2 separate regions of the Homo sapiens genome follow, and region 2 is linked to region 1. The links come from fine-mapping of genetic effects on plasma protein levels. A gene starts in region 1. The other region holds a variant in brackets. All regions are shown on one strand. Distances are from middle to middle.

What was found. A credible set is the group of variants that fine-mapping cannot tell apart. PIP is the chance, under the fine-mapping model, that this variant and not a neighbour inherited with it causes the effect. The UK Biobank Pharma Proteomics Project read protein levels with antibody pairs (Olink). The fine-mapping took linkage between variants from a reference panel, not from the people measured, so its PIPs are less certain.
Region 2: its variant is the best candidate, but not a certain one, in a credible set for the plasma level of the CCL7 protein (UK Biobank, PIP 0.51).

The regions. Positions count from the first base shown.
Region 1 is chr17:34,268,909-34,271,408 of GRCh38, forward strand. CCL7 (C-C motif chemokine ligand 7) reads left to right here and starts at 1,313. Exons shown (of 3, transcript NM_006273.4): 1 at 1,313-1,458; 2 at 2,238-2,355. The coding sequence starts at 1,383.
Region 2 is chr17:34,214,641-34,217,674 of GRCh38, forward strand. No RefSeq gene overlaps it. Among named protein-coding and RNA genes, the nearest start is that of LINC01989, 33 kb to the left of the region's middle. The variant TA/T (reference allele first, on the strand shown) is at 1,237.

The DNA of each region.
Region 1 (2,500 bases):
TTGAATAATTTTCCTTTTTTGCATTCCATGTCCATGATCCATGGCCCAGTTATAGGCATGAGGACCCCACCCATGGTCTCTCATCAAACCCCTTTTCACTGATATGGAAGGCGATTAGTTGGTGATTTTGTAATGTGTATGTGAGATGAGGAGCTAGTTGTATGTGAGATGAGGAGCTAGATTAGTGGTTTCCAAAATTTATTCTTTGTATTTCTGAGATATGTGTGTGGGAAGAATGACAAGAAGTCTCTTGTCTCTGATTCAAACTGAAGGTCTCTGATTTTGTCGATAAATTTGCCTTCCCTATATTCTTTTACTTGGAAAAATATTTTCACAGCTCATTAGATGTTTTAGAAACACAGTATTTTAAGATCTTGATATGCTGTGCAGTTCCGATAGCCTATAAAACAAATAGTGGTTTTAAAACATATCCTCAAATTATTTTACACTCTTCCCATTAAGAGGTATGACTATGTTCCCTAACCTTGCACCTGGGATCCTTAAGCCATCATGCAAAATATCTAGCCATGTGGAGGGACCACTGGAAAGATCACACACACACACACACACACACACACACACACACACATACAGAGAGAGAGAGAGACACCTGAGAAATTCCATCTGGTCCAACTGCTGGCTGTTGAAGTCCTCCCAGCCCAGACCCCAGACACTGAATGAAGGCCTTGTGATATAGTCAAGAGCAAAAAAACCCAGAAGATTGTTATTGTTTTAAGTCACTGTTTTCAGATAGATTGCTATGCAGCAATAGATTATTGAAATAGACACTACAATTTTAGGTACTATTATTCTAAGAATATTGAATTTTATTTTTCTGCTAATGTTCTATTATTTTACTTTTCTCTGGGTTTTAGAAAGCCACCAGGATTTAAGACAGTGAAGAATCTTTGAGTCCTTTGTAGAGTTGAACCAAAGTTTGAATGTCTCTTTGTGGACTCGTGTCCTAGGGATACCACTCCAAAGGGAAAAGGGGAATATCCCTTACATATCTTTGACTTTGGTATCCCTGATTCCTTCCTTTTTCTATAGAATGTGTCTCATTTCAGAGAAACTGGTCTCTTGATAATAGCCATAGATTACATACTGTGGTCTTCCTCTACATAGACCCTACCTCACCTACCACTCCTGGTCTTAGCTGAAAAACAGGCTAGCCTCGACTCATACTGTCATTTCCTATCCTCCCACTGAAGTGCACTGGCTCAGCAGATTTATTACTCCATAGATTTATTACTCCATTCTATGATTCATCCTCTCTGCTTCCTATAAAAGGCAGAGACAGAGCTTCCAGAGGAGCAGAGGGGCTGAGACCAAACCAGAAACCTCCAATTCTCATGTGGAAGCCCATGCCCTCACCCTCCAACATGAAAGCCTCTGCAGCACTTCTGTGTCTGCTGCTCACAGCAGCTGCTTTCAGCCCCCAGGGGCTTGCTCAGCCAGGTAAGGTCCCTCTCTCCTTCTCCTTGAAGCACATTGCCCCCTCTCTGGGTTATCCTGGACCAATCAAGAAGACCTGATACCCACAGTCTCACTTTAACAGCTACTTTTCCAAGATAAGGTAACTTAGAAAAAGGATAAGGGGTGAGCCCAACCACACAGCTGCTGTTGGGTAGAGCCTGAACTAGAATTCCAGCTGTGAACCCCAAATCCAGCTCCTTCTAGGATTCCAGCTCTGGGAACACCCTCAGTGCAGTTACCACTCCAGCTGCTTCCAGCAGAATTTGGGATCAGGGTGATCAAAGACAGGAGGCTTCTGGGGATGGGTGTGCGGGCTGTTTCCAGATACCGGGAGACCCAGAATCTGGTCTGTGGAAGCCCAGCTTCCAGAAACAGCAGCTCTGCAGAGGTGGTACGTATCAGGGAAACTCATGACCAAGCATTGAATGCTCAGAGCCTAAAAGGGGATCCATAGTTGGGGTACCCTTGCTCTAAGGAATTGGATTATTATATTAGCCCCTCCTAGCAATGCCCAGAGTAGCCATCAATTCCTCTTCCGTCTTTCAACTGGTGATGGTGCATCCCTATTTCACAGTCCATAAAAGTGAAAGGGAGTTTATGAAATGCCTCAAAGGGCAGAGACATTGGGTTTGGGATGGGCAGCTTTTCCCTCCACCTCTTCCTTTCTTTCTGATTCCTTCTTCTTACCATTCCCTGTTTTACAAACAGAAAGACCCAGGACACACCCTCAATGGACTTTTCTTCTTGTTGTTTCATTGCAGTTGGGATTAATACTTCAACTACCTGCTGCTACAGATTTATCAATAAGAAAATCCCTAAGCAGAGGCTGGAGAGCTACAGAAGGACCACCAGTAGCCACTGTCCCCGGGAAGCTGTAATGTATGTGGACGATGACCACCCACCCCTCACACCTCAGTCCTAGGTTCTTCCCTGGGCAGGGAATAGGACTAGTATCAGAATGAGTTGGAGTCAAATACTGTGATGCATACAGCATCTCTAACCTTATCCCAGACATTTGCCAGTG
Region 2 (3,034 bases), 54 kb before region 1:
ATCTAATCTTTTTTCAAGGTTTTTAGCCTCTTTGCAATGGATTCGAACACTCTCCTTTAGCTCAGAGAAGTTTGTTATTACCGATCATCTGAAGCCTTCTTCTCTCAGCTTGTCAAAGTCATTCTCCATCCAATTTTTGTCCATTGCTGGTGAGGAGCTGTGTTCCTTTGGAGGAGAAGAGGCACTCTGATTTTTAGAATTTTCAGCTTTTCTGCTCCGGTTTCTCCCCATCTTTGTGGTTTTATCTACATTTGGTCTTTGATGATGGTGACGTACAGATGGGGTTTTGGTGTGGATGTCCTTTCTGTTTGTTAGTTTTCCTTCTAACAGTCAGGATCCTCAGCTGCAGATCTGTTGGAGTTTGCTGGAGGTCCACTCCAGAACCTGTTTGCCTGGGTATCATCAGCGGAAGCTGCAGAACAGCAAATATTGCAGAATGGCAAATGTTGCTGCCTGAACATTCCTCTGGATGCTTCATCTCAGAGGGGCACCCAGCTGTATGAGGTGTCAGTCGGCCCCTATTGGGAGGTGTCTCTCAGTTAGGCTACTTGGGGGTCAGAGACCCACTTGAGGAGGCAGTCTGTCCATTCTGAGATCTCAAACTCTGTGCTGGGAGAAGCACTACTCTCTTCAAAGCTGTCAGACAGGGATGTTTAAGTCTTCAGAAGTTTCTGCTGCCTTTTGTTCAGCTATGCCCTGCCCCCACAGGTGGAGTCTACAGAGGCAGGCAGGCCTTCTCAAGCTGCAGTGGGCTCCACTCAGTTCGAGCTTCCTGGCTGCTTTGTTTACCTACTCAAACCTCAGCAATGGCAGACACCCCTCCCCCAGCCTCACTGCCACCTTGCAGTTCGATCTCAGACTGCTGTGCTAGCAGTGAGTGAGGCTCCATGGGCATAGGACCCTCTGAGCCAGGCATGGGATATAATCTCCTGGTGTGCCATTTGCTAACACCATTGGAAAAGTGCAGTATTAGTGTGAGAGTGTCCTGATTTTCCAGGTACCGTCTGTCACAGCTTCCCTTGGCTAGGAAAGGGAGTTCCCTGACCCCTTGCCCTTCCAGGGTGAGGCAATGCCCCACTCTGCTCCGTGGGCTGCACCCACTGTCTAACAAGCCCCAGTGAGATGAACCTGGTACCTCATTTGGAAATGCAGAAGTCACCTGTCTTCTGCATCACTCACGCTGGGAGCTGTAGAATGGAGCTGTTCCTATTTGGCCACCTTGGACTGTTTTTTCCA[TA/T]CTTGATTTTTGTATATTGAGCTTGTAAATCCTGCAACCTTGCTGAACTCATTTATTAACTCTATTTTTTATTGTTTTTTTTTAGAGTTTTATTTTATTTTTTAAAAATAGAGATGAGTCTCACTATGTTTCCCAGGCTGGTCTCAAACTCCTGAGCTCAGGTGATCCTTTTGCCTCAGCCTCCCAAAGTGCTGGGATTACAGGTGTGAGCCACCATGCCCAACTCACTTATTAGCTCTAATAGAGATTTTTTTGTGGGTTCTGTAGGGTTTTCTATATACAGGATCATGTCATCTGCAAACATGGTTTTACTTCTTCCTTTCCAATCTGGATGGCTTATATTTATTTTCTTTGCCAAAGTGACCTGAATGGAGTCCCCAGCACAATGCTGAGTAGAAGTGTTGAGAACAGACATCCTTATCTTGTTTCTGATCTTATGGGGAAAGATTTTACTCTTCTGTTATTATGTATGATGTTATCTGTTAGCTGTTCATACTATTGTTCGTAGTATTTCCTTATAATCCTTTCCCTTTCTGTAAGGTCAGTAGTAATGTCATTTCTTCTATTCCTTATTTTAGTAATTTGGAGGATGTTTCTTTTTTTTCTTGATTATTCTAGTAAATGTTTGTCAACCTTGTTGATCTTTTAAGAGAACCAACTTATGTTTTGTCTATTTTCTCTACGGTGTTTATATTCTCTATTTTCTTTACTTTTGCTTTTATCATTATTATCTCCTTCCTTCTGTGAGCATTGGGTTTAGTTTGCTCTTCTTTTTCTAGTTTTTAATATGGAAGGTTAGATTTTTTAAATTTGAGAGCTGGTAAATCCAACATCTGGATTTCTTCAGGGACAGTTTACATTGACTTCTTTTGTTGTGTTTTATTTTATTTTCCTGTGTAGATGCCCTAATTTTTGTTTCTTTTCATGTCCCATAATTTTGGTTAGAAACTGGACTTTTTTTAAAAATTATACTTTAAGATCTGGGATATATGTGCAGAACGTGCAGGTTTGTTACATAGGTATACATGTGCCATGGGGGTTTGTTGCACCCATCAACCTGCCATCTACATTAGGTATTTCTCCTAATGCTATCCCTTTCCTAGCCCCCCACCTCCTGGCAGGCCTCAGTGTGTGATGTTCCCCTCCCTGTGTACATATGTTCTCATTGTTCAACTCCCACTTAGGAGTGAGAACATGCAGTGTTTGGTTTTCTGTTCTTGTGTTAGTTTGCTGAGAATGATGGTTTCCAGATTCATCCATTTCGCAGCAAAGGACATGAACTCATCTTTTTTTATGGCTGCACAGTATTCTATGGTGTATATGTGCCACATTTTCTTTATCCAATCTATCATTGATGGGCATTTGGGTTGGTTCCAAGTCTTTGCTATTGTGAACAGTGCTGCAATAAACATATGTGCGCATGTGTCTTTATAGTAGAATGATTAATAATCCTTTGGGTGTATACCCAATAGGATTGCTGGGTCAAATGGTATTTCTGGTTCTAGATCCTTGAGGAATCACCACACTATCTTCTACAATGGTTGAACTAATTTACACTTCCAGCAACAGTGTAAAAGCGTTTCTATTTCTCCGCATCCTCTCCAGCATCTGTTGTTTCCTGGCTTTTTAATGATTGCCTTTCTAACTGGTGTGAGATGGTATCTCATTGTGGTTTTGATTTGCATTTCTCTAATGAGCAGAGATGATGAGCTTTTTGCTTAAGTTTGTTGGCCACATAAATGTCTTCTTTGTGAAGTGTCTGTTCATATCCTTTGCCCACATTTTGATGGGGTTGTT